Regions from separate parts of the Homo sapiens genome. Here regions 2 and 3 are each linked to region 1. Evidence: fine-mapped expression QTL. A gene starts in region 1. Each other region holds a variant in brackets. All regions are shown on one strand. Distances are between the middles of the regions. Region 1 holds the start of PCSK2 (proprotein convertase subtilisin/kexin type 2). Region 2 has its middle 58 kb from the start of OTOR. Region 3 has its middle 180 kb from the start of PCSK2.

What was found.
Region 2: its variant is fine-mapped to the expression of PCSK2 in lung (TOPMed, PIP above 0.99).
Region 3: its variant is fine-mapped to the expression of PCSK2 in thyroid (GTEx, PIP above 0.99).

Annotation. Positions count from the first base shown.
Region 1 is chr20:17,223,558-17,231,742 of GRCh38, forward strand. PCSK2 (proprotein convertase subtilisin/kexin type 2) reads left to right here and starts at 3,483. Exons shown (of 12, transcript NM_002594.5): 1 at 3,483-3,925. The coding sequence starts at 3,749.
Region 2 is chr20:16,802,723-16,810,907 of GRCh38, forward strand. No RefSeq gene overlaps it. Among named protein-coding and RNA genes, the nearest start is that of OTOR, 58 kb to the left of the region's middle. The variant G/A (reference allele first, on the strand shown) is at 4,593.
Region 3 is chr20:17,039,970-17,048,154 of GRCh38, forward strand. No RefSeq gene overlaps it. Among named protein-coding and RNA genes, the nearest start is that of PCSK2, 180 kb to the right of the region's middle. The variant G/A (reference allele first, on the strand shown) is at 3,493.

The sequences.
Region 1 (8,185 bases):
TAACCATGCGGAACTGTAAGTCCAATAAACCTCTTTCTGTTGTAAATTGCCCAGTCTCACGTATGTCTTTATCAGCAATGTGAAAACAAACTAATACAACAGTACAATATGACAGTAGAGAATTGTTCCTACCTGATTAATGTACCATTACTGCATTTAAAATGTTTGCAATGAATGCAGCAAAAATGGCAAAGCCCAACCTGATTTTTAACAAGGCTGTATTTTAAATTGTGATTTTCAGTGGTATATACCCTATTTCTCTCCAGATTACACATCCCACACAATTGAAGAGAAATCAACAGAAAAATTAGATCTTTCTCCAGTAGTCCAAAGAATATTCAAAGGTTTGGGGGACTCTCCTACGGCTGCTTCTGGCTTGCTCTGTACCCCCAGTGGTAGGTTTTCCTTGGCATGATGCTCTATGAATCCAAAGTTCTCCTTTTAGAAGTACATCTAAATGTGAGTATCCCAATCATGCCTCAGGTGGTTTTGGTTTTTTAAAAAATCACCCAAGGTCTCTTGATTTCTAGTATTAAGCCATAAAATGGGAGAGTTCTAGTCTTGTTTTGCAGGACAACATCTTCAAAGAGACTCTGGGGGCCTGTGGCACATCTGAGCCAGAACCAAACACCCGACGTCATTGTTACAGATACAAAAGTAAATAAATGAAAAGAAGCTCCAGGTATTGGTGATTTTTATATCTCGTGCTGTCAATCTGTTTGTGTCAGTTATTATTTTTTCAAGTACACAAAACTGATAAATATGAGACCATTTGGGGGAGGTTACACAAAAATAAGTATGCCTGTTGGCCACAATATGTTATTAAATAGTATTGTGGTCCTCAGCATTTCTCAAACTATTGATGATGCTTCCTACATTACAGCGTATGTTTTCACAACTCTTTTGAAATTATAGACTTTGGCTCTGAGGTATCTAATCCAACAGTCTCTTTTCACAGATAGAAAGATAGAGACTTTGAGAGGTGCAATATGTTGGCCCACAGCCAAGTGGTATACATACCTAGTACTAGCAGAGCCTGCAATAGGGTCCCTGGCAACAGGCTTCTAGGTCTATCCTCAAAATGTGCTGCTGCCATTCTCTCTACTGTCCACCTTGACTATTGTTATTGGAAAAAGGAGTTTGAGAAATAGTTGTCTAAAAGAGCAATTTGTGTGCACACATGGGTGTGTATTAGCATTTCAAATAACAATGTATCAATAGATATCCAAGGGATAAATACATTTCCTCTTCCACTTGCTTACTACATTGTTGTGTATTGAAAATTTAGTATTTGAATAACCAAAAAAATTATCTTTCCATTTGCTATTCTGTCCTGACAATATTATGATGAGCTGTATTTTATGTAAACCACTAAAGAGGACTTATTTTAATTAGTCATTCAGGTTTTATATCATTTCTGGCCAATTTTACACAGTTTTAGTTATTTAAAATGTAGCTATATGAGATTCAACATTTACCAGCATTTCATATTTGGAAACTATTTAAGAAATGAAGTGGCCAGGCGCAGTGGCTCACGCCTGTAATCCCAGCACTTTGGGAGGCCAAGGCGGGTGGATCACAAGGTCAGGAGATAGAGACCATACTGACTAACACGGTGAAACATGAAAACCTTGTGTTATAATCAAACGGATGGACTATGAGGGGGTAAGCTGTTAAACAATAGAGTAATAGAAAGGGGGAACAAAGGCAGAAATGAGCCTCTGAGCAGTAGTGAGCTGAGGGGCCCAGAGTTGATCTGTTTCCCTTTATTAATACTTTCACCGTGTTAATACTTTTCCAGAAACCTTGCCTCCACCATGGCCCTAAGTCCTAACAGATAGCTTAATTTTCTTAGAGGAATTCAAATAACAATAATAAATAATGTCACATAGACTTCTAATGTTTTAATAAAAACCTTCAGCAACGCCCACATTTTTACGTGACAATTTTTTAAAGGGCTATGAGGGAGCCAACTATGTCAGCAAACAGACATGCTCTGAAGACAGGGTGGTCCATGGCATTCAAAGTGTATTCATTTCTACCGATGGTGCTTTTCTTGCATAGGTTCTGACTTGTGTAGATTTGGACTTCAAGCTAAAATAAAAAGAGAGGAATATGTGTATACATGAGAATGTGTGTGTAACGTGTCGATGGTATAAATAGTCTCTTCCTCTCTCTCTGAATTGCATGCACTTAAGCCCCTAAGAAAAGATCTCTTACCTCTTATCTAAGTAAAGCAGAATTTTGAGCTTTGAAGCTAAATGATACAATGAGATCAGTGTAAATACTCTTTAACACAACAATATTTGAGTAGCTTTGAAACAGTCGTCCTCATTTCGTTACATACAGAACGTTCGTGCTTCCTCCCTCTCAGGCAAGAAGCGGAGTCCGTCGTCAGCAGTTAGCAGAGTCCAGTGCGAGTGCACGTTTCTTAACCGGATAACTTAGTTGCCCCTGCCCCCCGTCGCTGCGCCCGAATTCGCCTCCAGTAGAAGACGTTCAGCGGGCGACTTGGCCCGGCGCCTGGGATCGGTGGCTATGCGTTCCCCAACTAGCACCCTCGCTGTCCTTGTGCAGTGGAACGTCCCCAGGTCTGAGAATGCACCTCCCGCCGTGTCCACCCCGGCCGCGTCTCTCCTGAAGGCAGATCTTGGAGGTGCAGCCAGGACTCCTAGAGGAGCCTCCTCCAGTCACCATCGCGGGTGGGGCGAGCCGGGTCTCCTGCTGGGCTTCCCAGCCGCTTCGCTCCGGACCTGCCTGGAGCCTACAAAAAACAAGGGCTCGTCCTTGCACTCTCGCCCCCCATGGATCACCCCTAGAAGGTGCTTTCCCCAACCCTCCTGGTGCCAAGGAGAGCAAACCTCCCCGGGGATTTGCCCAAAGTGGTGGGAGGAGGGTTAATATTTGCTTTGTTATTCGGATAAGGGGAGGCAAGTATGCCTTGGGTGTGTGTGTGTGTGTTTGAGAGAGAGAGAAAGAGAGAGAGAGAGAGAGAGAGGTGTTTTTGCAGCGGGAAACAAGCAGGAAGAGGCACAGAGGCCGGCGCCCCTGCTCCCCTCGGGGCCTCTGAGAGCGGCACACACCGTAATTCCCTTCCCAGAGCCTACAGATTCCCACAAACAATGACATCACTCCGCCGCCGCTGGCCTGATTACAGCTGGGGGGATTTTCCTGGGCGCGCGGCGGGCCAGGCTGAGATGGGGGAGCTCTCCGGTGCTGAAAGGGGCGGGGGCGCGGGCTCGCTGCGCTGCGCTGCGCTGCGCTGCGCCCCCAGAAGGCGGAGGCGGCCGGGCCGGGCCGGGCCGGGGGTGGGCGGGGGCGGGCCCGGGGCGGCCCAGGGCGGGGCCCGCCGCTTCCCCCGCCCTCATTGGCCGCTGGCGGACTCACGTCACCCGAGCTGGTGCTCTCCCCCAGCCCCTAGGGAATTGGAGCTGAGGAGGAGCTGAAAATGCAGATTTAGCATCAAGCACAGACCTACACTCGCTCTTTCTCTCCGGTACACACAGCTCCCCACATTCGCACCCCTGCCCGCGCGCCGGGCCGCCTGACTGCACGGCTTCCCCTCCAGCCAGATGCTGGAGAACACACACTGATTCGCTGCTTTCCAAGACCCTGTTCAGTCTCTTTCTCTATACAAAGATTTTTTTAAAAACTATATATAAGAATTCTTTATTTGCACCCTCCCTCCGAGTCCCCTGCTCCGCCAGCCTGCGCGCCTCCTAGCACCACTTTTCACTCCCAAAGAAGGATGAAGGGTGGTTGTGTCTCCCAGTGGAAGGCGGCCGCCGGGTTCCTCTTCTGTGTCATGGTTTTTGCATCTGCTGAGCGACCGGTCTTCACGAATCATTTTCTTGTGGAGTTGCATAAAGGGGGAGAGGACAAAGCTCGCCAAGTTGCAGCAGAACACGGCTTTGGAGTCCGAAAGGTAAGCTCTCCCATGCATTTCGCATGTTGTTTCAAAACGGGGGGACGGGGGGGCAGCCCTGCGCAATCTCATTGCAGATTTGCAAGTTTTCTCTCTTTCTCATGCGATGCAGATATTCTGCCATGGGCTCTTTAACACGATATTGCCTCCGGTGATCTTTCACCGGTTATGTAATTAAAATGTCCTTCATCTGTACTAGTAAGGTCATCAAAATAATTTACTGCTCTTTGACTTGATGGCGAAAATAGGATAACACCTTTCACAGGATGCCATGCTCCGGGGATGCTGTCCGAGGTACCAAGTTCTCGAGGCTGCCTGGGGATGGAGGGATGAAGCCCTGAACAGCTAAGCCTGGCGTTGGCTACTTGGCCAGGGAAGTCTCCCCCACCCCCATCCCCCGGAGAAAGAATAGTTTCCTACAGACGAGGCTGGACGTTTGGACACTGCAATTCACCTCGGTGTTTCTCCCACCCCGCGCCGGGAGGACTTCCCTCCCAGGGACTTCGGTCCCTGCTCCTCTCCGGGAACAACGGCTTCCTGACTCTAGATTTGGAAAGAAACTGGTCTCTAAAATCGGGGCGGAACTTCTGCGCCCTCACCCCCGCCCACGACCGCCCACCCCTGGAGCGCACTTCTGGTTGGCTCCCTAGTTCTCAACTCCCGGCTACAGGAGCTGGAGAGGTGGATTTTGAGGGGGATTCCCTACGGAGAAGTCGAGGTGTCCTCTCCTGATGCGTGGGCGGCCAGCCTGGCTTTCCCACTAGAGCGTGGGGATCCCCATTCCAAGAAGTTGCCAGAGTTCGACAGTTTGAGCAGATAGGTGAGCCTCCCAGCTTTGGACACCTTGGATCTCCTTTGGAGACTCCAGGGTACTCATCCTGGGAGGACAGAGAGAAGGGCGCTGGGTGGGGGCTGTGGCTGACCTGCGTGTCTCTCCTGCAAAAGATGTATCAGGGTTCTCCAGTGTCCTTAGGGGACCTGGCGCAGGCTGGGGTGGAGTGTGGGTGCAGAGAGAAGGTGGGGCGAGGGGAACCCAAAGGACAGAGATGTGGCTACCAGAGGGCTGGGTGGAGGTCCCTGAGATTTTAGGCTCCATCTCGCTCCTGATCCCAGGAAGAGAGAGGAGTGAGATGAGCGGTGGGTGCTTTTGGTTATTGGTTTTGCCTTGAAGGGCCGCGCAGACCGAAGCTCTTATTAGTCTCTTCTGTCCTGACTTCCCAAGCCTCCCGCCTCTCTCCCAGCCACCGCCAGGGCTCCTCCAGGTGTGGGGGCCTCTCCCTCCTCCTAAGGGCGTAGGCAGTACCGGAATTTCGACCCCAGAAGGGTCTGGCGACGAGTTTGACAGAGGTCTGGGAAGAGGCTCTGGGTCCGCCGGTGGCGCGCGGGCGGGTCTTGCGGAAAGGAACTTGTTGCTCTGGAAAGCGTGGGTGGAGCAGGGGAAAGAAGGCGCCGGCGGAGGGAGCACCCCGCTGTGGTTTTGGCCCGTGGCCTGCCGGCTGTTTTGAGAGACACCAACACAATAAAGAAGCCGACCTTCCTTCTTCACTCCCCCCCACCCCAAACTTGGCAAGACCCAGGACCCAAACGCCATTATAAAATATAATAGTGATTATTATTAGTTATACGGAAGCTTACGTGCTGGAGTCCTTACATAGATTTTTACTTAATCTTCTCAACATCTCTGAGGAGGCTACTATCATTATTGAGCCTATGGCCCCGTTGAGGAAATTGGTTCAGAAAAGGGTGCGAGATAAAAACAGGCAAGGGCTTCAATCCAGATCTTTCAGAAGTGAACCCATGCTCTTTACTCCTTAGTACCCACCCAAGCAAGCTAGGTGCTTTCAGGGGATGTGGGGCATTGAGATAAGTTGAAAAGGGATTTTAATTCTTGAGTGTGATCTTGCTGCAGAAACCTGTGGCTCCCTCCCCCTCCCCCACACCTTTTCATGGGTGCGGGGGAGTGGGAGGGAGCCATAGGTTTCTGAAAACCATTGTTCTCAGTGGTTTTCTCTTCTCTTTGCTGCCCCCTTTGAAAATGTGCCCTTAGGATCAGAGATCAGATAACTAGGCCTCTTTGTCCTTCATTCTTTCTTGGAGAGGAGCACACTGATTTTGCATCACAACCTGAAACCTGCAGTTCCCATCTGAGAGACCTCTCTCCTTACTTCTCCATAACCTCTCAGGTAGTACCCCACAACCAAATCCAGTGATTTTTTTTCCCCTTTTACACGTTTAAGTAACAGGGACTGCCTGGTGCAACATCTGCCTAGAATAAACCTCCTTTTGGATCCATGTCTTGTCCATTCTTCAAGACCTAAATTCAAACCTTTCCTGATGCTACAGACCACAGTGAGCTTTCCCTCCTCCAAATTTTTATGCGACTGATAGGCAAACACTGCACTACATAAGCTAATAAATGCCATCACTTTTCCTCATTATTTCAGGTATATAAGTAAATATGGGTTCAGTTGTTGTATTTCTACTTAAAAGGTAAATATTCAGGGATGATACCTCCTATATTTCTCATTTCCTCCCTGTAACCAGCACATTACTGTTTTGCCAGCCTTGAAGGAAACTTCCTTGTCTGTATTTATTATCCCAGGTTTCCCAGACACCGTCCTATCTTGCTTTCATCATACTGTTTTGTACTTTTGCCAACATTTGTTATTGTGCATCTTAGAGGCCCTTATGTCCTTCTCCTTCCTTGCTCTGATGCTTAGCATGCTTCCCAACTCCCTACTGCTCCCTGCTCCGAGGCTCAGTGTCAGACACAAAAGATTCTCAGTGGTTATTTATTCATCCATATGAAAGGTCAGCAATGGAGGCTAGAAGAACATGCTTTCTTATTAAATTATCTCATTCTAAGCTCACAAATCTATGAGAGAAATTACTGGCATCAGCTGTAATTCTCAGATGAAAACCTTAAGGCCTTGAGAAGTTAAGTATCTGCTTATATCTGAGAAGTAAAAGAACTCAGACTTAAAACCAAATTTGCTTAACTGAAAAATAATTGCTTTTCTACATCATGCTGCCTCCAGGAAGCCTTCCCTGACTGCCAAGAACTCTTCCCTTGAGACACAATTTTAGAGCTCTGCTATTTTCCCTTTTCTTTTTACTTTTATTATATTTATCATTTATTTTCTATTAACACATGAACATGTCATTAGCTAATGGGTACGTGTATTTATGTCTTCAGGTAGACTATAAATCTTCCAAGAGGAGAAATGACATACTATATCTTTATATAGTCTCCATATCTAGCATGGTGGCCTGTATATGAATATTTAATTGTTTGTCAATTATTTGATTGATTCTTATAAGACCATGAACAAACATTTGTTTTCTCTCTAAAATGAAATAAAAGCACCTATAACTTTACCTCTGAAAAGGTTATGGAGATTAAAGCTTTCTATTTTATCATGACCTGGCCCTGGCCCAAAGACCTATGTCTATCAGAAAAGATACTTAAGTCTAGGAGAGTGAATGAGTTTACAGTAATGACAAAAGCATTATTCCAAAGAGTGCCTTAAAATTCTCAAAATGCTACTAATTTTAATTGATTTGAAACAGAAAACAAAAATTATTTATTGAAGCAACCTGTTGAAGATTAACCAAAAATCAAGTGAGAGTTAGGGTTTAAAAAGAACCTGATATTATCCTAGGGGTTTCATTGTATTATGGTGTGTTTTATGTTTTATCCACAGAGGACAGATGCTGAAATGATTACACAAGTAAAATCATGTGACCATTTTTATAATGTGTGAGAATTTTTTAATTTTGAAAACAACCTAATAATCATTATGCTGCCAGGTAGTAAAAAATTAATAAATTTCTGGTCGCTTCACTTTTATTAAAGTATAATTTAGGAAAGAACACAGCTTAGGGAATTTTCACAAACTGAGCACACATGTGTAACCAGCACCCAAATCAAGAAATAAAATATTACCAGTATCCCTAAGTCCTTTTCTCACTCACTTGCTTTGTTTTCAGGTTTTAGCTATTATAAATATAGCTTTTGTGGATATTAAAGTCTACGTATTTTGGCAAACACATATATGGCCTTCTACAGGGAATCCTAGAAATGGAATTGTTGAGTAAAAGGATATGCATGCATACAGCTTTATAAGACCATCAGTTTTCTATTGCTGTGTATCACTAAAAAACTTAGTGGCCTAAAACCACACAAGTTTGTTATTTCACAGTTTTCATGGGTAAGGAGTCTGGCACATTTTAGTTGGGTCCTCTGCTCGAGTCTTCACA
Region 2 (8,185 bases), 420 kb before region 1:
TCTGGGAAATCTGTTCTGAGAAATTGCGTCATCTCCAAAACGTAGTGCCCAACCACCTGGAATATAATTATGATTATTAGCGGCTAAATATTGTGAAGTCTCTGTTCCTAATTGTCCAGAACCATTAGCAATGCCTTAGAATGTGTATATTTCCCTCCCATATTGATGTCCCCGCACTTGAAAATAATCAATCCCTTCTAATTTACAGTTGCTGTGAAATATGAAATGTAATGATATCACTACCAACTGATATCAGTTCTGGAGCACAGTCATATTCTTTTCTGATTTTTCTTTCTTTGTTTCCTGTTCTTCATGTGAATCCTTTTTGCTGTGCTGATTTGGGCTCACTAATTTTTCCTCTGGATTTTCATTTCTCTGCCTTCTTCAAGGGAATCCCTGTGCCTTCTGCTGATTTCATATCTCCAGCCTTACTCTGGCTAACTCACACTCACTCCCCTCCTACCCACTGCCAGCCGAGAAAGGGTGGTGGCTCTTTCTTCATCTGCAGAAGAGGAATCTCATGTGTGTATGGGAGAGGAAAGTTCAATGCCCTGGTATGGGTCATTCATCAAATTGTCTTCTATCCTGCCTTCCAGAGATCTAGGTAAACTAGCTTGGCCATCAATGCCATGGCTCATCAATGTCCAAGACCCAATCTAAAAGATTGGCTAAGAATTTTGGGAGGCTTATGTTCACAGGGCCTTCTCAGTCTCCAGGCTTCTTATACTTCCAGTCTCTGCTTTGCCCTAGGATGCGTGAAACAACACCCCCTTTGAATTTTGCCTGAAGTCCACTGGCTGAAAGCATTGATGAGCATTGTGCACTTTGTGGGGTCATTTCAGGGGAGTTCAGAAGACAGCAATAGAATCAATTTTGCAATGGAATGGCAAGCAATACTATTTTCCTTTGTCGTCCCTCCCCTCACCTAGTCCCAGCCGCCTTTTGCTTTGCTGGCTGTTTTTATCCATCCTCCCTTGGCTCTCATCTCTTCTCTCATCTCTCCTCATCTTCCTGGATCGGTAAGTCCTCCCTTCTGCAGCTTGGCACCAGCAGGCAGAAGGCTGCAGAAGGGAGGGCAAAAGACTTACTGATCCAGCCTTCAGCAGGCATTTTCTTTTGGAAATTGATATGCTAATTCTAATATTATATGGCGATGCCAAAGACCTGGAACAGCCAGAACACTGAAAAAAGAACAACAAATTTGGAGGGCCAACACTCTCTGATTCCAAGAATTATTATAAATCTGGGTGATCTTTAGAAAACTCTGATGCCCAAGCCACACTGCAGAACCATTAAATTTCCATCTGTAAGTGTGGGGCCCAGCAGCAGGAGTTTTTAAAGCTCCCCGGATTATTCCTCTGTGCAGCCCAAATTTAAAGCTGCCCCAAGCCGGCGTATTTCATTAGTCCTCTAGAGGGCGCCCCAAGCTCGCAACTGACCGAGGAATGGCGCTTGCAACTAAATAGATGGTCACCAGACCTTCTGAAGCTGACTTTATCAGACAATCAGATAATGTGGGGAAAGAAGGAAGAATAAAGAATAGAAACAGCCGAGCGCGGTGGCTTATGCCTGTAGTCCAGCAGTTTGGGAGACTGAGGTGAGAGGATCGCTCGAGGTCAGGAATTCAAGACCAGTTTGGGCAACATAGCAAGACCCTGTTTCTACAAAAAAAAAAAAATTATCTGTGCATGGTGGCATGAGCCTGTAGTCTTAACTGCTAGGAAGGCTGAGGTGGGAGGATTGCTTGAGCCCAGGAGGTCGAGGCTGCAGTTAGCTATGATTCTGCCACTGCATTCCAGCCTGGGCCACAGAGTGAGACTCTGTCTCTAAATATATATATATATAAAATATTTGTATAAAATATATTACTATTATTTTAATATTTTATTTAATATTATTTACTATTTATATGTATTATATATATGTATGACTGATGAACACTACCACTGGCAGTATTATTTTTTTAGTTACATTAAGTATTTGTCATGTAGGGGAATTGAAAACAGTTTAACCGCTTTTGATTCTGTATCAATGGCATCCTTGTATGAAAAGAAACACTAATTCTAAATTAATCTTTGTGGCTAATGGGACTTTAGATTTAGCCTGGCCGTTGGAACCTCATCAGTCTTGGCTCTGGTTTAATCTTCTAAGCAAGCACTTCCACGGTCCTACATGTCCCTTTTGTTTCAGCCGTGCTGGTCTAATCACCTTTTTCCAAACTTGAGGTCCTACTGCCCCCCTAGGTTAAGTGGCACCTCCCTAGGCTGACTTCGACATTCCCCAGCCCTGTCACAGCTCTGGTCTGGATGCTGATTAGGAACTTGTTAACATCTTCCTGGCTCATCGATACCCCCTGTAATTTTGAATTGTTTTATGCCTTGACCGATCAACTAGAGTGTATACTTTGTGAGTCCCAGGACCTCATCTTTAATAATCATGAGTAGTACTTGCATATAGATGGTTGATCCATATTTGCTTGATGAAAATATTTGTTCTGGTTTGATGAGCTTAAAGTGAGTTTGAGAAAAGGGTCCAGTTTTACCATTTTCTCCCTAGGTCTTAGCATCCTGCCTGGAACAGAGAAAGCACTTAACACACCATTGTTGACTGAGATGTATGTGTCCATGTTCAGTACCTACTTGCACAGGAATGTGATTTTCCTTGAGCCTATTCCTTTAGGCTGAATCTTGCTCCCCCTCCCTCTCCTCCTCCTGGCCCTCCCACTTCTCATTTGCTTTTGCGTTCAGCTCTCTTAAAGGAACTACTCTGAATACATAGTATTTCCTCCCTTTATGCTGTGGATTGCCTTCCCTCCCTGCTTCTCCCCTCTTATCCTCCCCATCTTTCCCTTGTCTTTCTTATACATGTGTTTTTTGTTTTTTAAATTAATACATTAAATAAGATTGAGGTAGTGAGGAGTTAAGTAATATTTTAGATATTTGCAACAACTCTAATGCATCTGCATATATCTGTGGTTTTATTGGTGACAAAATCATGGGAATGGCCAGTACTGCTGTGGTTTATCAACCTACACTCAAATTGAACAAAATGTTACATTTCAGTAGAGTTTAGTGAAAATAAAAATGTGCTTCTCCCTCATGAATTCTCTTAATTCTGTTCAGAAACCCATGGTGGCAGGAGAGGTTTGTGATTCCGCAGGTTAAGAACCTCTTTTCTACAAAAATATGACAAACACAAGATTTATATTTAATGGTCAAATGAGTTCCTTTTCTTTCCTTGTTCCCTCCCTCCCTTCCTTCCTTCCTTCTTTCCTTCCTCCCTTCCTCTTTCTATTAAAACCATTTAAATTTTCAGAAAAGTTTCTAAGTTGCTATCTTTAAGTGCAAATTTCTATGGGAAACACCAGAGACTGCTCTCAGTAGTTCTCAAACTTAAGTGTGCATCAGAATCACCTTCAGAGCTTGTTAAACTTCAGATAACAGTTCTCCACTCCCAGCGCTTTGATGCAGCAGGAGCCTGAGAATCTGCATGTCTGACACGTTCCGGTAATGCTGATGTTACTGGTGTGGGATGCCTCTTTGAGAACCACTCCCTTTAAACCTTCAAACTCTCTCACACAGAGCCTGACATTCCGATGTTCTGGTGGTTTGAGTTGCAAGTGACCATCTTGGAAGGAGCATTTGCTGTAGTCAGGGTGGAGCAAGAAGCACCACTGGTGTGTGATCAGGAGGCGACAGGACTGTGGGAGACAAGCTTGGGGCAGACCCCGTGGGCACTGGAGGCACAGCTGATGTGGCAGATGACCAGGGTGTTTTAACCCGCACCCCTGGTCCTGCTGAAAGCATCCCTGTAAGCTTTATAAAATCAATCAAGGAAGAAGGGAACAACGATAAACCAAGCTTGCAGCACACTCAGCACTAATCAGTAGGTCAGCTTGCCTTCTGCCCGGCTTCCTCGTAGTTGTTTTCCTGTTGTCCTAGAATCATGTAAACCCTATCATAAGATTTTAGCTCCTCTTGCCGGGGGCGGTGGCTCACGCCTGTAATCCCAGCACTTTGGGAGGCCAAGGCGGGCAGATCACGAGGTCAGGAGATAGAGACCATCCTGACTAACATGGTGAAACCTGTCTCTATTAAAAATACAAAAATTAGCCGGACGTGGTGGCGGGCACCTGTAGTCCCAGCACTGGGGAAGCTGAGGCAGGAGAATGGCGTGAACCCCGGAGGTGGAGCTTGCAGTGAGCTGACATCATGCCATTGCACTCCAGCCTGGGAAAAAAAAAAAAGATTTTCGCTCCTCTTAACTGCTCTATAGATAACAACAAAAGGTTAAGTTTTCTATTTGAGATATTCTTTCAGGTCCTGCAAACTCGTGAAACTACTGACGCCAATGAATCTGAAGGACCCCACGAGGAGCTGACTCACCAAAGAATGTAGTTTCCACATCCTGATTATTTCACTCCTGTTATCACAACCAAACAGCAACCCCAGTTTTCTAGGCCCTTGCCCCCATAATCCCCTTAAAAACCCCAGCCAAGACCTCCATGGGGAGATGGGTTTGAGGGCCCCCTCCCGTCCCCTGGCCTGGCCTCCCTGCAATCACTGAACTCTTTCTCTGCTGCCATCCCTGCT[G/A]TATTGGGCTGTTATGGCACAGCAAGCATCCGTGCCTGCCGATTCTGTAACACCACCTGAGTTTGCCAGTGCCTGTGGCAGTCAGTCCTCAGCATGCTGACATTTTTCAGCATGTGGGGATTTTCCCCTGCACCCCCAGAGGGTGAAATGACACCCCTTGGGGCAGCAGCTGCCAACCCATAGGGTTTGTGGCGATATTCCCCAGCCTTCCAGTTCTGGGTGCAGTCCACACCCTTCCACAGAGCTGGCTTGAGACTCTGTTGCCCATAGCAGTCATCACTCATTAATCTTGCTTCAGTGGCCATTTCCACCCTCCCTGCCTCATTCTCTCCTCTTTCTCTTCCCTCCTGCTTCCTGGAATCACCTTCCAAATAAACCTACTTGTTCCCAAGTGCTTGCCTCAGGAACTGCCTTTCAGGAAACCCAGTCGAAGATGTGTGTTCACATCCTAGCCTGCCACTTCCCTTCTGGGTGACCCTGGGCAATGAAATAAATCTCTTGAGCCCCATTTCCTTGCAGTGCCATAGGACAGCACTTCCATCTCCCAGAGTTATTATGGAGACAGACTGAAATAATATTCAAGAAGAATCCTGGGCTAGTTCCTGGCCCTGCAGTGTAGGTGCTCAGGAGATATTAGTTCCCTCCACCCCTGAGGTTGGTTGCTTTCTGAGAGGAAGAGGGAAGAAGGCAGAGGAAGAAATTAATTTGCTAGATCCATGAAACATGCAGGCAAGGGGTTTGCCTTAGGCACAGTGAGACGGATGAGTGGGCAGATCAAGTCTTCATCCCCAAGAATGCAGCTCTTACTCTTGGAGAGTTCTACTGACTCTAAGTAAAGATGTTCCTGGTGGCCATGGATGCTGTGAGCCATCCTGCTTCTGTTCTTGGATTTACCAATCTTCACCTGCAACACCTCCTCCACAGAATCTATCTGATTTCGGCAGTTGGGTTTTGGATCGAGGGGACTACCTCATTAGCTATATGACAATATTCCTCTTGCCCTTTTCCCTCCATCTCATTTCAGGAAGTGGTTTTGTCTTTTTATTACTTTTAAAAGTTTACAGCAGAAACATTAAAGAGATGGTTGGTGTTCATTGATTAGTTTGAATATGGGGCTCAATTTATTTATGGTTTCATTCTGTAAAATAGGAAGAGAAGTAGAAATGCCTTTGAACTAATTTCAGAATTCTTTGCTCAGCAAACCTTGTCATTCCCAGGCAATAACACAACGTTGCAACAGAATCCAAATGAGAGACACTGATGGGGAGGGGAGATCAATATAGGTTTTCTCTCATTTCTCGACTCACTTTGTTGAGTTTCCTGCAGGCTCTGTCTGTGGAAATACATTTCTAAGTACATTTGCTGCAGGCAGATACATCTAAGGGGCAGAAATAGAGCAAGACGGAGGTAGTAGATATACGAAGAAAAGATGAAATGCAAGAGAAACCAAAGCAAATACAAATTTAGAGTGACAAATTAATTCTTTTGGTACTTAGAAATGATTTTAAAAGTCAGCTTTTAGAAATTCATATTCAAAAGAAAGCATCCTTTGGAAACAATTTTACATGTAATTCGAAGCTGGGAACTGTGGCCTCTGAAGCTGGTCTTCTCCAGCATTCTATCCCACCACTCTCACTCAGCCAAAAGAGCTGGCACAAAGCCGGGCTGCTCATCTTTCCAGCTCCTGGCAGAGCAGTGGAGGATGACAATGGATCACGGAGATCAGGGCCCATTTAAAACAGACAAATAGAATTTGAGATGCAGACCACTAAAAGCTCAAGAGCTGAGGTGAATCAATTCTCCCTTTGATTGGTCATGGCAAGCTGTTTCCTTAACCACAGTAGACTACGGGCTACTTGTGTCCAGAATCATATTTGACACATTGTTATTTTTTGCATAGTACCACTGGGGCTTTGAAAAAGCTTTTTTCTTTTTTTTTTTTGCAAATAGTTTTAACATTCAGATTTTATTGCATGACTCTTTGGTCTTGCATTGTGTGTGTGCACACACGTGCATGCATGTGCATGTGTGTAAGTAAGGTGTCATATATCAAATGCATGCATGTGTGCATGTGTACACACACACAGTATTGGGGTGGAGAGAGAGAGAAATCCTAAACACAGAGCTCAGAAATTTGCATTTAATTCAGCTGGTTAAAGGAGTCACTGAAAGTTTGTGAACAGCAGACTGATAAAGTCAACATTTCCCTTGAAGAAATTTATACTGGTGAAGTAAGGATCAATTGTCTAAGAACTGGTTATGCTGGAGGTTGGTGATTAGTAACAGAAAGAATAGTTTGGAAGTTCTTGAAAATCGGATGGATAAGAGATAAGAAGAAATAACCCAGCAATACCAGCAATAATAACAGACATGAAGTAATGTATGTGAGAGACATTTAAGAAGTGGGATGTTCATGATGTGGCAATTCCATGCGGAAGGGAACGAAAGAAGGAGCCACAGAAATCTCAGAAATGCAATGTATCTGTATTCATCTCTGGGTCAGGACCTCATTAAAAGACAACCCCACCCAGTTATTCCTAATGTTCGATAGAATTTCCAGAGGAAATTCTGCTGCCTTTTCTGATGGCTGTGTCTTCCAGCCACTGCTTTCCTAATATTCTTCCAACTGTCTAACCTGAGCATTCTCACATCCAATAGAACTTCTTCCTTATACGCAATTGGTTTGAGGATTACAAAATTATTTCATAAAGAAGGCAGCCTTTTAATATTGAGTATATTCTGTTTAATAGGGAATTTGGTTTCACTTGGAAGTTCAGCTGAATCATCTCAGAGAGAGAAGATGGCCTCCTCATCTTTAGGATGAAATAAAAGTACTTTAGAACACACAGAAAACCTGAACTCTGGGCCCTCAGGCTCTCCTGGGATGGCAGGACCCAAGAAGAGAAGAGGGTGTCAGTGTGGATGCCTTTGATGGCTGGACATTAATTACTGTGGTTTCTGGAAGCAGTGGGTCCTCAGCAGTCCAGCCTGTGGTCAGTGGGGAAGACACTTGTGAGGAATGGCCTTGTGGTTTTCCTGAGCCAGACTCCTTTCTTATTTTCTTGATGTCATATAAATCAGCTCTGGGTTTTTTATGATCTAATAGAGGGGGCGGGGGAGCCTCAGTTAAGGTCTGATATTGGATATCTCATTGTCTTTGGTGAGCAGAAGCTGGGTGCTCAGCTTAATTTGTTTTAAGGAAAAAAAAACGGAGTGATTCATCTACCAAATATTGTGAACCACAAATACCTGTTTCAGTGATTAAGATGTAGGGCTCTGTACTTTTATTCCGCTGGTTATTCAGAGGTGTCTTCTAGAGCTAATTTAATTAGATTTACCTTGCTGTGAAACTCTCGATGTCAGGGACTTGCTGATGCTGGAGTGGAAATTCACCACTGTTAGTATTGTCAGTGGCCTGGAAAATGTAAGATAGGTTGTGGGTTATTTTTTTGGCCCTTGTTAAAGGTGTATGTGCCTTCAGGATAAGTTCTTTATGAGGCTCACCCGTGATCATTTTGAGCTAGTTATACCATCCAGAAGATTAAAATTGGGCATCCTTCACAGCTGGTGTAGGTCCCGTATTGGGGAAGTTC
Region 3 (8,185 bases), 180 kb before region 1:
CTATTGATTAACCAAGGAATATACTTTTATAAAACACATGTTTCCACATTTTGAAAGCAAAGGGACATGATTTGAGGATAAGTGTTCAAAAGATTATGACAAAAACAATACTATAGTGAGATTCTAAATGATTTCAATTTTCCCCTTTATTTTAAACTATTGGATATGTGGAAATAGGATGCATCAAAGATTGGCCACATGGAAAAGGGAAAAATGGAGTGATGGGGCAGAACACATTAGGTGCCAGCAACGCAATGAAACTCAATAGGCATTAAAAACAAATGCAAAACTTGGTCCACTGATCAAGCTATAAGCCTTGTTTCAATGTGCTTTTTATTAAAATGAAAATCTTCCTTTACATCAATGGAACCATAGATTAATTCCTGTCTTTATTCTTGTGGATTAAGGAGCTACCTGCTCAGGATTTTAAAACAAGATCACAAAAAACAGTTTCCTTTGAAAAATTTTTGTTGGAGAACATTTTCTTGGTGTTAAATTTAGAGCCTTATCAGTGGCAGAATAGGTGAAAATGACCCCTAGGCTCACAGCACATAATCAGTGTAGGTTCCAGGAGAAGACAATGAGTTGGTACCCTCCTTAGAGGTCCAGAAAGAGGTCACTGGCTCATTTCCTGAGAGGGGAAAGTCTGATACCTGCAAAAGACTACCTACAAGGCTTGGCTCAGAAGCAGGATTCCTGTTTCTGAAATGGTTAAGTGTTCAGAATCACCATACTCTCAGGAATACTGCTACCACTACCGCAGCTACCATTTAAGCTGTTACCGTATGCTGAATACTCTAACGACTTTCGTACACAAACTTGTTATACCTTCCCAAAAGCCAGGGAAAGATATTCTATTGACCTCTATAAGGCAAAGAAAGTGAGCCATGGAAGGGTTTGATTGCATGTGTAAGATCATACAACTCCCATAAAAGGGTTTGAACTCAGAACTTACTTTAAAAACTTTGAATGGAGGATTGCTCAAAGAATGTACTTGGAAAACAACGTAAGAGTCCAGTTTCCCGACCTGAAATACAGGGTGAATAGGAGCACCAACAAGGTAACTTAATGCTAAATGGATGAGATCTAGAATCCTGAAATCCCTACCAACTCAGAAGAAGGTCAGTCTCCGACCCTAGGGAATTTGTAAGGATTAGATCTTAGTTGTAATGGTTAAAATACATCATAGGGAAACCTGAGGTCATTCTTGAAACTATAAGCCTGTGCCTGTGTTCTCCCAAAAGAGTTGACGTGCCAGGCACAGTTTTCCTAATCAAAATCCCCTTCATCTTAGCTGAGTTTAAAATGATACTTCTTGGTCACTCAAACCACTAAAAAGAAACTAAAACAGGCCAAATTTGTCCTGAAGTCCTCTCCAAGTAACAAATCTTAGAGTGAAACTTCAGAAAGCAAAGAAAGGAAGCCCCTTTGAGTTGATAGTATAGAGGATACCCCCTGCAGATTCTAGTCATTTCTATAACATGCAAGGCTCAGTACAGAGAGGCTCAAAGAAAGCTCAGGTAAAGGCAACGCTCATCTCTCTCTCCTTTTCTAAGTCTTGCCTGGATTCTGTATAAGCAGATAAGCTGATCTCACTCAAAGTGGAAGTCAGTGCTTATTAACGGCACACAGTGAGAGAAGTACAAAAACTGAGAGTGTTTTGACATTTTTATGGAAATTTGCCATTGCCATGTGTTCTGGTTAACAATTGCTGTTTAACAAACATCCAAAATAAAACAAAGTGGTCTAAAACAAAAATGTATTATCACATTTCATGGTTATGTGGGTTGATTGGGCTCAGCTGGGCATTTCTCATGTGATGTCTGTCTTGTGTTTGCTTTTAGAAGGCAGCTGGAGCTGGAGTTAACTAACGACTCAGTTGAACAAGGTCTCCAGAATGGTTCCTTCATTCACATACTGGGCACCTCTTCTGAATGGCTAGAACAGCTGGAGGCTGGGTGGGCATGTGTCTCCATGCAGCCTCTCCATTTGGATAGGTTGGGCTTCCTCTCACCGTGGTGGTCTCAGAATAGTCCTACCTCTTAACTGGTAGGTGGCTTCTCCTAGAGAACACACAGCAAGAGACCAGGGCTGGGAACTGCAAGACTTCTGGTGAACTAGCCTGGAAGTCACACAGCATCACTTCTACCACATTCTGTTGCTCACACCCACAGGCACAGCCCAGATGTAAGAGGAAGAAGGGGACATATAGGGATAGGAATACCAGAAAGTGTTCTTCATCAGGGTTGTCTTTGGAAACTAGCTACCACAACATGATATCCAAGTGCATGATGACCAAACTCATCTTGTTGAGCTCTGCATAAACTGGTTCAGGAGTACAACTCACATGGCAATTTGCACATGACACGTGCTGCCTACTGGTCATATAGATTGGATTCAAGCATTACCACAAACAGTTTGAGAACTCTAACCTCTTAATCTTTGCTTCTGCCCAATCTGTCCTTATTTCTACAACTACACTCAACATTGGTTTTCAACCTCAGTATATTCCTTTGATTCTCACATATTAAATTAACTTTTTCTTCAGCAACTCCCTGGAAGCAGTTTTTTTTTTCTAGCCACATACATTTGATCTCAAGCTCTCCTCCTGCTCAACCCTCTTCTTACTTTGGCTCTGCTGTATTTTTCTTCAACCAAGCCTTGCTTTATAGCATGAGCAGCTCAGTACTACCAAACAACACTTGCAGACTTATGTGATGTTCACTTTTGCCTCATGAAATTTACATTATAAAAAAGAAAACCTTTACAGATTGACAAGAGTAAAGAAGCAGGCTTCTTTAATATCATTAATGTCATTTTTCTCTCTTGTCAGGGATTTGGAGATGCAGAGATTTCCATTAAAAAATTATTTTGAAAATGTCAGAACACCCAATAGCAGAAGAGTAAAAACACCTTTCCCCATTATCCATATTCAGCAGTCCTCAAGACAATTGATTTTTAAGAAAACCCGTTGATTTATTAGAAGACTCCATAGTCAATTTCTGTTGGGTTGGAGGAGAGAGCACATTCAAAAGTTCTGAACTATTCTGGCCTTATTCAAGGACAGAAATTTCATCTCTTGAACTTTTGGGTAATTTATCTTTCATCATATCTGGTTACCGCACAGCAAAATGTTTTGAGAAACACACCCCTAGAAAGGAGCAAAATTCCTTCCCAAGGATCAATTCAGCAGATAGAGTCCTGAATATGGGTTTTTATAAAGGTGTTAATGTAATGGCGTTGTCAGGGATGGTCAGTGTTGCAGAGAACAACTTCTGGCATCCTCAGATAGGACACACCAGAATCAGTAGAAGCATGGCTTAATCTCACACTGGCTGTACTAGTTGTATTTCTAGATGTAGACAGATTTGGTAGAGTTAAACAAAAAAATACTTGAAATGTGAAACTATTATAGATCCTCTTGCACAGTGAAATGACTTTGCGTAAATGATTCTTAGATCAAAACATGTTTAAACAGTCTTGTTTTCTAAG[G/A]CAAACATTCGCGTTGTAGTGCATAAAGAGAACACTTGGGGAGAACACAATGTTGCTCTTCAAATATTTCAGAGTCTGTCCTACAGGAAAGGAATTACACTTACCCACTCTTATTCCTGAGGTCAGAACTAGGACAAGTGGGTAGATATTGCGGGGAGGTGGACTTCACATCAACTTAACAAAACTATATTTAAAATTAACCTTTTTTTCAAAGTCGAGAGAGCTTCCATGTAAGATAGTGAGCTTCCAGTCATGGACAAAGTTAAGCACACATTGGGTAACTGCCTTCGGGGGAGGCTGAAGAGGGATTTTTATAATACAAGCGTTTATTTTTAATTATAATACCTGTGTGTGTCCAGGTTATGTACATGTAATTGTGTATTCATGGCAAACTTTGAAAACTAGAATTTTTGGTAGTCCCAGAAGAGATTAAAAGACTCAAAACAGCTTTAAACACATCGGTGATAATTATAGTACTATCATCACTGTGGCACAGTAATATCCCAAAAGCTCTATAAAAGTTAGACACAGTTTGTATGTTACTCTCTTCACTTTTCTTCTAGTACTGTGTTGAACTTTTGATTGTCACAAGAGACTCTCGTCTGTATTCACAAGCAAATTTTTAGCATGTTGTGGTATTTTAGTAAAAGCTTCATTTATCTCTAGTGTTGGGCTGATGCTACTCCATACCTTGTCAAAAACTCAGTTGATCTTAACTTTCCATCAGTGGCATTGCTATAATTATAATTTAAAATTTTTGGCAGTACACATGAAGGTTTCCAGTACACTGGTATGCCTTACCACACCAGTTGCTATGGAAGGTACATTGGGCCTGGTCATTTCTAAGGGTTTGAAGTTACTTCTCTCACTTTGTGTTACATTTGTTTTTAGAAAGTAAACTAGTAATGAGCAAATAGTACCAACATCTTATGAAAGGTGGGAGATTTTTCTCCTGCAAAGATAGGTTTATTTTAAAATTAACAAAGGGAATCCAAGAAAGCCTTCTAATTTCTTTCCTTTTTCTTCCCCCAGAGGCCTAGAATGTTATTGAGTGCCAGAATCTCAAACACATGTTTTACAAATAAAATAACATCTGTACATAAACCATTAATCATTATATTAATCATTACATGATTTGCCTTGTTTTGAAGGGTAGACGGTACAGCTTTCATGAGCAAATAGTCATAAAAGAATCATATTTGCTATGCCCATGCCACTCTCTTGAGTTGAATGCACGTGTCCTTAGAAAACTGCAGAGAATTAGCCCATTGTATTTGATGCTTTTTATGTGACTGCCTGACAAGTTTAATTTTTTTCTAATGACAGAAGAGATAAATCATCAGTGCATAAAATTTGAAAAAAATACAGATAAATGCAAAAAGGAATCACTACTAACCCAGATAATTTTTGTTAACATGTTAGTAAATTTTCTTAGGTATTGCAGCTAAATTTCCCTGGGACTGTAGGAATAGATCACATGAAGGAAAAAGAGTCACTAATAAGTCAGAAAGCCAAATCTTCTGCATATATGATCACTGTTACTATGGAAACCAACACTTTCCTGGATGTGACAAGCAAGCATGCTGAGGAAATGTGAGCTGATAGCATCATAGTAGGAAGCTGGGAGGAGGAGGCCTGTCCCTGTTGGAAAGCTGTGCCCGAAATTAGGACACCAACAGGAACATGCAGTGCACATTGGTGTCACCACCAGGCTAAAAGAACCTCCAAGGCCTGGACGTGACAGGAGACAAACCTGTCTGACCTCTCACAATACCCAAGCCCTAGCGGCAACCCAACCACAGGGGACTCTTCACTGTTGTATCTCAGCACCCAGAGCAAGGCATGGCAACAGACAGGCAGGGAAGATGCTCCCCAAGTATCTGTCAAATGTATGAGCAAAAAAGTTATGGTGCTCAGCACGGAGGTGGTCTTTCTCCACACCTTTTCGTTCACTCATAAATGAGCCATAGTGAGTATGTGTTTGTTATCATAAATACAAAAGACAATATAACAAGCTGGTTTTGTTTTTCCTAAAAACATATCTCCTTGGCTCCAGGAAAGCCCCTAGAACCAGGAACTTTGAGCACAGTGGAATTTTGCACTGAGATGCCAGTTAGAGAATCACTAGGCATGGATAACCTTCCTACTGGAAAAGTAATTTAATCATAGCATGCTCTGGCTTTGGGCTATTTGCTGTAATCCGAATAGAGAAAGCATTTTAGAAACTGAGTGACAGTCTCCTATATTTATCCTGGATCCCTCTTTCTATGAAGCTGCAGGTAAAACTACTAACTACAATTGTAATAAGACCCTCCGTGTGGTCTCTGTCACTGACAAATACAAAATTTCTATTCGAAGAGAAGAGAATGAGTTTTTACATATCCCTCCAATTTTCAAAAACTACAGCATCTCTTATAGTCTTTTTTCTCAGTTTTTTCTCCAGTTGAAGGTGATCTGTTGATGAAGTCCAGATAACAAGGCCCACAATTTTACCATAATGTTCCAAAACAAGTGAAACAACTCTTTTTAAAAACAATTTATTCATTAATTTTTATTGTCCTCAGCTTTATTAAGGTATAGCTGACAAAAGTTGTATATATTTACAGTATAGAGTATGATGTTTTCATATATGTATACATTGTGAAATGATTAAATCAAGTTATATACTAATTATTTTATAAATTAGAGCAATGAGTTTCCTAGAGATTAAGAAAATGCAGTTAATAGGAAAATGTGAGCTACTGATAAAGACAGTAACCTGAATAAAACATATTATGGTCAGATCTATAAGCTTTCATGGCTGGTTATTAGGAATTTGGGAGCCACCAGTTCTACGTTCAAGATGAGATCCAGCCTCACTTGTCTTACTTCATCTGTACTGTGGGAGTTACAGCTCTTTTTCTTCTCATTGAAAGGATCCACCCATGGTCTTGACAATTATTTTCAAGGTTCTCCCAGTCATCTACAGGTCAGGATTTACAAGTAAGATTCTCCTTGTGCATTTTCCAAAGCAGTAAATAAAATTCTAACTCTAACTGACCCTTCTCCATGATTATGTGGATCTGAATAAAACACTCACTGTAGTCAGCATCCATGTGTATTTGAGTCCCTGTTGAAGGGGAATGGCCCATTTCATGTTTTATACTATATCCGGAGCAGACATCACAATGTCACATGACAACGTTATGATCCAGATGTCAATTATATTTAAATACAGCCCTTTGAACTCAACAATTCTCTTTATTAGGAAGTTAATAATTTTGTGGGGTTTTTTTTCTGTTCTTCTCGCATGGTAGGCAGAATTCTAAGATAGCCTCCAATATTCCTGATTCCTGGTGTAAACAACTTGTATAATCTCCCCAGCCTTGAGTGTGAGCAGAACCTGTGAGTATGGTAAAATATTACTCCTATAAATAGATATATTCTATGGCAAATGTGGAGAAATTTAGAATATATAACTAAGGTCACTAATCAATTGACTTTGGGTTAATCAAAGGAAAATCATCCAGGATAAACCAGATTTCATCAGCTGATCTCTTAAAAGCAAGGTTAGAGGTCAGAGACAGGAAATCAGGAGACCTGCTTTTGCTGGCCTTAAATAAGATGAAATCTGCCATAAGTTCTATAGGCAAAAGGAACTGAATTCAGTTAACTTAAATGATCTTGGAAGAAGATCCTACACATGGCAGTCTTGACTGACACTGCAGTTTTTTGAGACCTAACTGGCGGATTCAGCTAAGCTGTGCCTGGACTCCTGACCCATGGAAATTGTGAAATCATAAATGGGTCTTGTTTTAAGCCACTGAATTTGTAGTAATTTGTTAAACAGCAATAGAACAGCCTCCTCTCTCTCTTTTTTTTTTTTTTTTTTTGAGATGGAGTCTCGCTCTGTCGCCCAGGCTGGAGTGCAGAGGCGCTGCAAGCTCTGCCTCCCAGGTTCACGCCATTCTCCCGCCTCAGCCTCCCGAGTAGCTGGGACTACAGGCGCCAACCACCACGCCATGCTAATTTTTTTGAATTTTTAGTAGAGACGGGGTTTCACCATGTTAGCCAGGATGGTCTCGATCTCATGACCTCGTGATCCGCCCACCTCAGCCTCCCAAAGTGCTGGTATCGCAGGCGTGAGCCACCGTGCCTGGCCAATGTCTCCTCTCTTACACATGTGCACGAGAACATACAGACACACACACCAATGTCTAAGCTGGCCCCTGGCCCCTTTTATTTTTAAGGAAACGTTTGTTTGGTAGGGAACTTTTCCTTAGAAGATTCCCTAAACTTCCCATGTCTACTAGGGAAAGGCTCTCTCTCTCTCCTGCTGTAGGCACCTCTGTCCCAGTCGCAACTATGAGCAGGGTGCACCTCTGTTCTCTGTGATGTCTTAGGGCTCTAGACACACACCTGGGAGCCAATGTGAGCCAAAGAGGTCCCCTGCAGGAAACACAAAAGAGGATGATAAGGAATGCAGGGTTGCACTGGAGTTTAGTCTTTTATGTCTTCCTCCTTGGAATCCAGGCTGCTCTCAGAACTTCCAGATGCTCGCCCTTGTTTAGACCTTATATACGTGTCTGACCCTTCTGCCTCAGTCTGACACCTGGAAGATTTGGTTGATAAAACTGCCTAACCCTGATGTCCTTGTTTGTTTTTCTGCCATTGCTCCAGGGCCCTGCCCTTTGACTAAGTTTGTGACTGTATT